Linked DNA regions of Homo sapiens: regions 2 and 3 are each linked to region 1. Evidence: fine-mapped expression QTL. A gene starts in region 1. Each other region holds a variant in brackets. All regions are shown on one strand. Distances are between the middles of the regions.

Region 1 (2,762 bases):
TGGGGAGCAGCCCTGTAAGGGCCAGATGGCTGGGTGGAAAAGCTGACCAAGTCTTCCTTCCTTTCAGCCAAATCTGGAAGAAAGGCACCTTGCCTAGAGCAGTGTTCCTGGTACCCAGGCCTCTGTGGGCATCCTTCAGCACAAAGACCCTCTCCAAGGGGGGATGGGCTGGCCCTCCCAGGACCACCAACCCACTTCCAGAAGCCCATGGGTCATCCCCACCTTCACCTGACTGGGCTGTCCCTGACGCTAAGGCCCAGCAGCACGAAGGGGATTCCACACAAATCAGGGCAGTAGGCTGCTCTCTGGCGGCACTGGGGGCTTAGGGTCTGGCCAGCCTGTCCCTGGCTCAGGACACATGCCTGGAAATTAGGGTTTTCTCCTCTGCTCTTAGCATCTCCTGGGTAAACCAATAATTACTCTCCCTCATGTCTCAAAATTCACATCTATCTAAAAGGCGCTAGTGAGGGTGACATTTCCAGGAAGCCATAGCCCATGTCACCCCCTGCAAAGCTGTGACCTTTTCCGCGGGCAGGCCAGGCGGCGGAGTTCTCCCAAAAGCGGATGAACTGGCACTCTGGCTGGAGAAAGCAGAGAGCAGCAGCACAATGGACAGCGTCTGGGACCTCAGGCCGATTCCACAGCAGCTTAGGAAAGCAGGAGGCCCCCTGGGCGGGAGGAGGCTTGATGCTCTGGAGGGAAACGGAACTGAGCAGCGGGAGGTGGGGTGAGCCTGAGACCCGACCGATTTTGGCAAAGGCGAGGCGCACTTTGCAGTATCATACTCTCCTCACTGCCCAGCCCAGACCTGCCCTTCAAGTCCCTCTATGGACTCACTCCCCTTAGCCAGGGGTGGCACAGATTCAGTAGCCAGCATGGGTTTGGAAACAGAGGTCAACACCGCCCTGCCCCTCCCTGCGGGGCTGCGCAACACCCTTGAACCCTGCGCATGCTGAGACTGTAGTCCCATAGCCCTGCGACCAACGGCCGGAAGCAGCTAAGACACTATTACCAGCATGCCCGGCAGGAGGGCACCGCGCTGCCCCCCCCCCTCAAGGGACCAGCATCATCCCCACTCCCGTAGCATACTGGGATTGTAGTCCCGCAGCTCTGCCACCAACAGCCAGAAGCAGTTAAAAAACTGTTCCTCTCAGCATGCCCTGCAAGGCGCGCACCGCTGCTGTACCTCCCTTAACGTATCCGTAACCTCCCTCAACGTATCCGTACCTCCCTCAACGTATCCATACCTCCCTCAAGGTATCCGTACCTTCCTCAAGCTATCCGCACCACCCTCTCTTCCATTTCATGCGAAGATTGTAGTCCCGCAGCCCTGCGACCAGCGGCCGGAAGCAGCTAAGATGCTACTGCTCCCAGCATGCCCCGCGAGGCGCGCACAGCACAGGCCCTCTCTCAAGGTCACCACCTCCACTCCCGTTGTATGCTGGGATTGTAGTCCGGCCGCCCTGTGACTAACGGCTGGAACCGCCTAAGACACCACCCCAGCCAGCATGGCCGGCAGGAGCGCACCGCGCTGTCTCCCTCCAGGGATCCGCACCGCCCTACAATCCTGCTTTGTGCTGAGATTGTAGTCCTGCAGGCGTACAACTAACAAGCTGGGTGCAGATAAGAGACTACAGCTCCCCGCATCCCAAGCAAAGGTCCCTCCTCTACGGAGCCCCTCCACGCGTCCACTGCGGTTCCGCCGTGCCAAGGGGAGCTTGGCTGTTCACGGGCCTCACCTGCTAGCGAGAAGATAGCTTGGCCGGGCGGCTGATCTCACCTTGTAATTCTGACACTGTGTCTCCCGGGCTTGTCGGCTTCATGACTTGTGCCCAAAGTTTGATTTCTCGCAGACCAGGTAAAAGCCAAGAGGCTCTCATAGGCGCCTTGGCAGAGTTGCCATTGGAACGGGCGTCCTCTAGTAGCTGGGATCTCCCCGCCCCTTCCTCCTGAGGGGCCACTCCTTTCTGCCCCACCCTTCTTATTGCCCCACCCTTTGCCACACTCCTTCAGAGATGCGCAGTGCTGCCCCTTTCTATGGGCAGGGCCGAAGGTCCGCGTGTAAAAGTACCCAGTCCCTGGTAACCTGACACTTCCCTTTTAAAAGCCACCTTTTGTCTATCTCTGGCCTGCCACGATTCTTCCTGTGCTCCATAGGAGGACCCATTGGACCCCCGGGCTGGCTGCAGGGCCCACACCTGGGTTAGACCTCGCACAGGGACGCTGCTGCCACTGTAATAAAGCGTGCCTACACGCTTCTGAAACTGGTGTAGGAACAACCTCAGTTCTGTGAAAGGCGGACGCAGCAGGACAGAATCTCCGTGGACATCTGTCTGGAGGAGCAATTTTACTGCGACATTTTAAAGAAACAAATTTAATTGATTTCCAAGGTAAGAAATTAAACCTTGAAAACTAAACTGAAAAGTCATCTGTGTTTGACAAGTCAGACTTTCTCCAAGAAGAAAACTAAGGAGTGCATATTTTCCATTATTATAAATAGTGAAAATGAGAAATCATAGCAACTCCCTGGAAAATCTTGCTCTGCCAGTTTTCTAAATCACAGTAGGGCCTCGATATGGTTTTATTTGTTTTTGTTTTTGTTTTGGAGTGTGTTCACCTTTTGAATATAAGAATTTGCGGTTTTGACCAAGTTTTTAAATTTTCAGCTATTGTTTATTTGTTTTTGTATTATATTTAATTTTTCTGTCTCTCCCTCTCTGTCTCAGACTCAATCATTTCACAGGTCTCTTAGGCCTCTTTTC
Region 2 (2,762 bases), 52 kb before region 1:
TAAAAGCTGAGAGAACCAGTGCACTCTTGCAAAGGGTGGAATGTCGCAAAAGTCCACCAAGAGTTTTCACTAGGACTTTCCTGGGCCTGCCTTGGAGCATGACAAGATGATGAGGGAATTCTTAACAGGACCATTTAAGATTAAATAAGTTTAATTGGGGGTCTGAAAAAACTCCCTGTTAGGGTCACCCCGACCAGACCCTTCCCCTCCCACAGGCCTCACAATACACTCCCTTGTGCTCTCCACACAGCTACCCCAGGGCAAAAGACAAACCCCTGCCTTCACTGAGCCCTCCAGTATCTGTTTGTCCAGACAGTTATAGGATGCGGTTAACATATCTCTTAACCTCGCATAACAAAGCTGGCAAAAAACATCTCCAGGATGCAGTTGAGACACCTGCATCCCCAACTCAGCTCCTCTACTGGGACCCAGTTCTCCTGCCCCGACTCAGCTCCCCGACCCTGACCTGGTTCTGGCCCTGTAAAACCCTGCTATAGTCTGTAAGTGGGGCTGCCTCCTCTAACTGTGATGGAGCAGCCAAGCAGCTCAATAAAGCTTGCTTGTCTGACTTTGGGTCTCCTCATCCTTTCTCTCAGCTGACCTTACATTTCTGGTGCTGAAACTCAGGAAGGTGGTAGAGTTTGGCCTCCCTTTCTCCCTTTCTCCTTCCCTCCATTCTTCCCCCGGCCGAACTACCCCTTCCAGAACCTGCTAGAGACCCAAGGATCTCATACAGCCTTTCCATCGCTTGGTGAACACATCCGACACCAGGACCACCTCAGGGGTGAGTAAAGGAGACTTTTGCCTTCGGTCTGGAACCCTTGTCTACTCTTTCCTTCCTGAAAGACCTAGCACTGGGCCAAGGGTTTCCTCCTCCCGGCCTCTAGGCCCTTGGTATCTCCCTTTCGGGGATGCCTGAACGGAGGATTATCGCACTTCTCCGACTTGAACCGTGGGACAAGGGATGCCTTCTCCCACCATTCTAGCCAAGTCTCCTGTCTCTACCCCTCCCTTTCTCATTTCACTAAGGGAGCCTCCCAATCCACTCCCTCAAAGACATCCCCCCCCCGCCCCTTGGGTATCTCCTCTGTAACATTAATGCCCTTATCCTCC[A/G]TTCCAAAATTTGGCCAAAAAAACCTCATCTTTTATTGTAACACTCCCTGGCCAAAATATAAACTAGACAATGGCTCCCAATGGCCTGAAAATGGCACTTTCAATTTCAACATTCTCAGGGACCTAGACAACTTCTGCCATCGCAATGGAAAGTGGTCAGAGATCCCTTATGTTCAGGCTTTTTTTTGCCCTCTGTAGCCGTCCCTCCCTCTGTCAGTCCTGCTCTACTTTCCAAATCCTCCTCGCCTGCTCCAAACCCGACCCATCCTCAAACACCCCCCTCCACCACTCCTAGTGACAATTCCTCCTTCTTTGACCCTGCCAACTTTCCTTCTCTCTGACAACACCATAATCCTCCCCCAAATCATCACAATCCTCCACCATATGCTCCCGCTCCTGCCTTACCTCTTTCCCCTCCTCTCTCCTAACCACCCAACTTCTGATTCTGATTGCTCCCCATCTCCACTTCATACCTGCTCTCGGACTCAGCATGCCCAACAGTCGGCCCCCTTACTTCCCCTCCGAGAGGTGGCTGAGGCTAAAGGATTCGTTCACATCCACATTCCCTTCTCCCTCTCCAACCTTTCCCAAATTAAGAACGGTCTCAGGTCCTTTTCCTCCAATCCTGACACTTACATCAAAAAGTTCAAATACCTCACTCAATCTTATAAACCCACTTGGCATGATCTCTATATTATCCTTTCTTCTACTTTCCTCCCAGAAAAACAAAGAAAAGAGTGCAGCTTGCAGCTCAGGCACATGCTGACGATCTTCATTGGCAAGACCCTCCTAAGCCCATAAAGGCTGCTGCATTTCCCCGGGAAAAATCCTCCTGGGAGTACCAACCCACAGAGCCCGGCTGGCATCTCATAACCACATGATCACTTCCTTATTGCAGGCCTTAACGAAGCTGCCCACAAGGCCGTAAACTTTAAAAAACTCAAAAAAAAAAATCTCCCAAAGGGCCAATGAAAATCTTGCCAAATTTCTTTCCCGCTTTACAGAGGCCCTCCAAAAATACACCAGTGTTGACCCCACCTCCCAGGAAGGAACTATTGTTCTTAATACCCATTTCATCTCTCAGTCTGCTCCTGACATACAGCGCAAGCTCAAAAAGGTAGAAGATGGCCATCAAAACCCTCTACAAGACCTTCTTATCCTGGCCTTCAAGGTTTTCAACAACAGAGATGGGCAAAATAAATTAAATAAAGCCCAACAAGATCAGGCTAAATACCAGCTCCTAGCAGCAGCTATCTACCCAGGCTGCCCAGAGGCTCAAAAGACCCAATAGCAGTGACCCTCCTGGGCCCTGTTTTAAGTGTGGCAAAGAAGGCCATTAGGCCTGAACATGCCCTAACCCACGAATACCAAAAACTCCTTGCCCAGCCTGCCAACAAACCAGTCAATGGAAGTCTGATTGTCCTCTTAACAAGTAGACTAACAGGCCGGTTCCTCAAAGCCCTGGCAAATCAAAGAGTGAAGAGTCACTCACACTCCCACACCTCCTTGGCCTGGCTGCTGGAGACTGACAGAGCCCAGGGCCCCCGGCCCCATCTGCCGTCACTGCATTGGAGCCCAGGGTAACTCTGCTAATAGCAGGTAAACCGATCTCTTTTTTAATCAACAGTGGAGCCACCTAATCGGCTTTA
Region 3 (2,762 bases), 29 kb before region 1:
TCTATAAATTTTCTATATGGACCATTATATCTACCCAGTCAACTTTCCTGGGTCAAACTGTGGATACCCAAATGTTTTTGAGAATATTTTTCTCTTATGTTAGTTTTTAGTCAATGATACGTTGTATCATGTTCAATTTTAATCATCAGTTTTCTTTTTTGTGCATTATCTTCACAGTAATATGGATCATGGACATTGAAGTATCCTCAGGGTTAAAAATGTTGGAATCCAAGCATTCTACCTCTTTTATTTGTATGGTTTCAATTATGACTCAGCATTTTAGAAAAATGTTAGCTCTATAATCTTCCACCCTCACCCCTTTAAATAAGAACATACTTTTTTAGACACGCAAGGGTCAGGCAGATACAACTACACAGTGGTTGACATCATTTTTGGGAAGGAACTGAAAACTGGTTTTATACTCAAACATCCTGTTGGGAAACTGTCAAATTAAAAAAATTATGACATTTGTTAAAAATTCGGAAGAAAGACTTTAACACTATTGCAGTAGATGTTATGGCCATTGTAATACGGTTCAGAAATCGATCATAACTCTGAACACAGACAACTCAGGATTTATAATCAATAAGCAAATAAATCAGTGGATAAAAAATTACTGAAATAAATTTGATAAAATACCAAAGGAGGAGGAATTTTTTTTTGTAACAGAATTCTGTTTACAGGCAGGCTAAGGACTTAAATATCAGGGAAGGGGAATGAGGATTTTAGTAGATGTAAAAAATATGTGGATTTTTACTAAGCAATCTTAGCAGCATTTCTGAAAATAAGCTTCTCAGACCAGGAGCAGGGCAACAAGCCAAGGTTGACTAAGTCAAGAAGAGAGTTAAGTTAAGCTTAACTAACCTTTGGTCATAAAAAGAGTGCTTGTCAGAACCAAGACTTTTTCCCATCTGATCTGAAAATAAATAAACACCAAAAGAGGCTTTGCTTGGAAAATAAGTGCCACTTCACCTGAGACAAACTCCATTTTCTCCTTGTTATCTTTGAATTTAGTGCAGAAAAAGAGCACTGGTTATTGCCATAGTTTTTATTTTTCTTTCATTCTTAAAGACAGAGATTCAGTTTTATTCAAACAGCAACTTACCATACACAATGGTTATAGTTCCTGACCCCTATTGAAGCTAATAATGACTAGAAAACATTCAAGACAATTGGGTGTAACCAGAAGTATTGACGGGACTTTGGGGAGACTGTTCAGATGAGGCTGACACAGCTGTGTGAGCCACTTTGACCTTGCATCTTTCCTCCTTCTTGATCTTTGAAATGCACATGGTTGCTGGTGTAGGCTGACGGTCCTACAGCCATCTTGGCCCATGAGACAGCCTACAGGATAAAAACCATCTACTGAAATATTGTAGCAGAAAAGGGTGCCAGGATGGCTGACTAGAAGTAATATGGTGTGTGGCTCTCATGGAAAGGAACAAAGGAGGAGAGTAAATACAACACCTTCAGCTGAAAC[A/T]CCCAGGTATTTGCACTGGGAATAATGAAGGAAACAACTCAACCCATGCAGAATGGAGAAGAGCAGGGCATGGCAACTGCCCACCTAGAAGTGACACAGAGCGAAGGGAATCTACCCTGTCCAGGGAAGTGGTGAGTGAATGTGTGACCCTGTGAAACCACACTTCTCCCATGGATCTTTTTATCCCTCAGGTCAGGAGATTTTCTCATGAACCCATTTCACCAGGGCCTTTGGTCTGACACACAGAGCTGCATGGTCTTGCCAGAGAAACTGCTCAGACAAATAGAATCTCAGAAGCTTTACACACTCCGGCTCCAGGATCTCCAGCAAAGGTGACTGCAACTCGGACAAAACAGGAGGTGGGACCACCATAAAAATCCCAGAAAGGAAGCCTAAACCACAGGGATGAACAACATCAGTCTGTGGGCCCCACATCCATGATGCCTCACCCGATAAGACCCACTGGCTTGGAATTCCAGCCAGCCCCCAGTAACAGTGTTTTACCTACCTGGGATGAGACAAAGTTCTGGAGACAGAGGCAGACTGCCATACTTGCTGTTTGGATGACTCAGCCTTTCCAGCCTGTGGGTTTAGGAGAGTCCAAGCAAAACTGATGGCAGATGAAGGGAAGCCCTGGCACAGCACAGTGGCTCTACCAAAATGTGGCCAGACTGCTTGTTTAAGTGGGACCCTGACACATTTCTCATCTCAGGGTGGGGCCTCCTACTCGGGCCTCCAGCCAGCCCCTTCCATATTCTCCAGCAGACAGAATTTTGCTTTCTCCCTGGATGCAGTGTCCAGTGGGAGAAGTGGGCCACCACATTTGCTGTTTGGACAACTCAGCCATTCCAGCCTGTGGGCTTAGGAGACCCCAAACCATACAGGGGGCAGAAGCAATCCCCCAGCACAGCACAGTGGCTCTACCATGATGTGATCAGACTGCTTCTTTAGGTAGGATCCTGATATGCCCCTTATCTCTGAGTGGGACTTCCCAACCAGGGCCTCCAGCCACTTCCACTGATGTTCTCTGGCCAACAGAAGTTTGAAAACTTTCTGGGACAGAGTTCCTAGAGATAGGGGTGGGCCATCAACTTTGCTGTTTCAGCAACTTAGCTTTTTCAGCCTCCAGGCTTTAGAGAGCACAACCTGATGAGGGGCAGAAGTGGTACCCCAGCATAGCATGGCTGCTCTATGAAAGTGGGGCTAGACTGCTTCTTTAAGTGGGTCCCCAATCCTGTTCCCCCTGGATAGGTGAGACCTCCCAAAAGGGGTCTCCAGTCAC

The links. PIP is the estimated chance that this variant, and not a neighbour inherited with it, causes the effect.
Region 2: its variant is fine-mapped to the expression of LINC00662 in unexposed skin (GTEx, PIP 0.99).
Region 3: its variant is fine-mapped to the expression of LINC00662 in whole blood (TOPMed, PIP above 0.99).

What each region holds. Positions count from the first base shown.
Region 1 is chr19:27,792,628-27,795,389 of GRCh38, reverse strand. It overlaps LINC00662 (long intergenic non-protein coding RNA 662), which reads left to right and starts at 1,450. Exons shown (of 3, transcript NR_027301.1): 1 at 1,450-1,858; 2 at 2,158-2,390. LINC02987 (long intergenic non-protein coding RNA 2987) reads right to left here and starts at 1,959. Exons shown (of 7, transcript NR_146733.1): 1 at 1,781-1,959. RefSeq lists enhancers at 1-71, 1,238-1,717.
Region 2 is chr19:27,844,348-27,847,109 of GRCh38, reverse strand. The region is part of intron 1 of LINC02987 (long intergenic non-protein coding RNA 2987); the gene reads right to left. Among named protein-coding and RNA genes, the nearest start is that of LINC00662, 52 kb to the right of the region's middle. The variant A/G (reference allele first, on the strand shown) is at 1,114.
Region 3 is chr19:27,821,841-27,824,602 of GRCh38, reverse strand. The region is part of intron 1 of LINC02987 (long intergenic non-protein coding RNA 2987); the gene reads right to left. Among named protein-coding and RNA genes, the nearest start is that of LINC00662, 29 kb to the right of the region's middle. The variant A/T (reference allele first, on the strand shown) is at 1,481.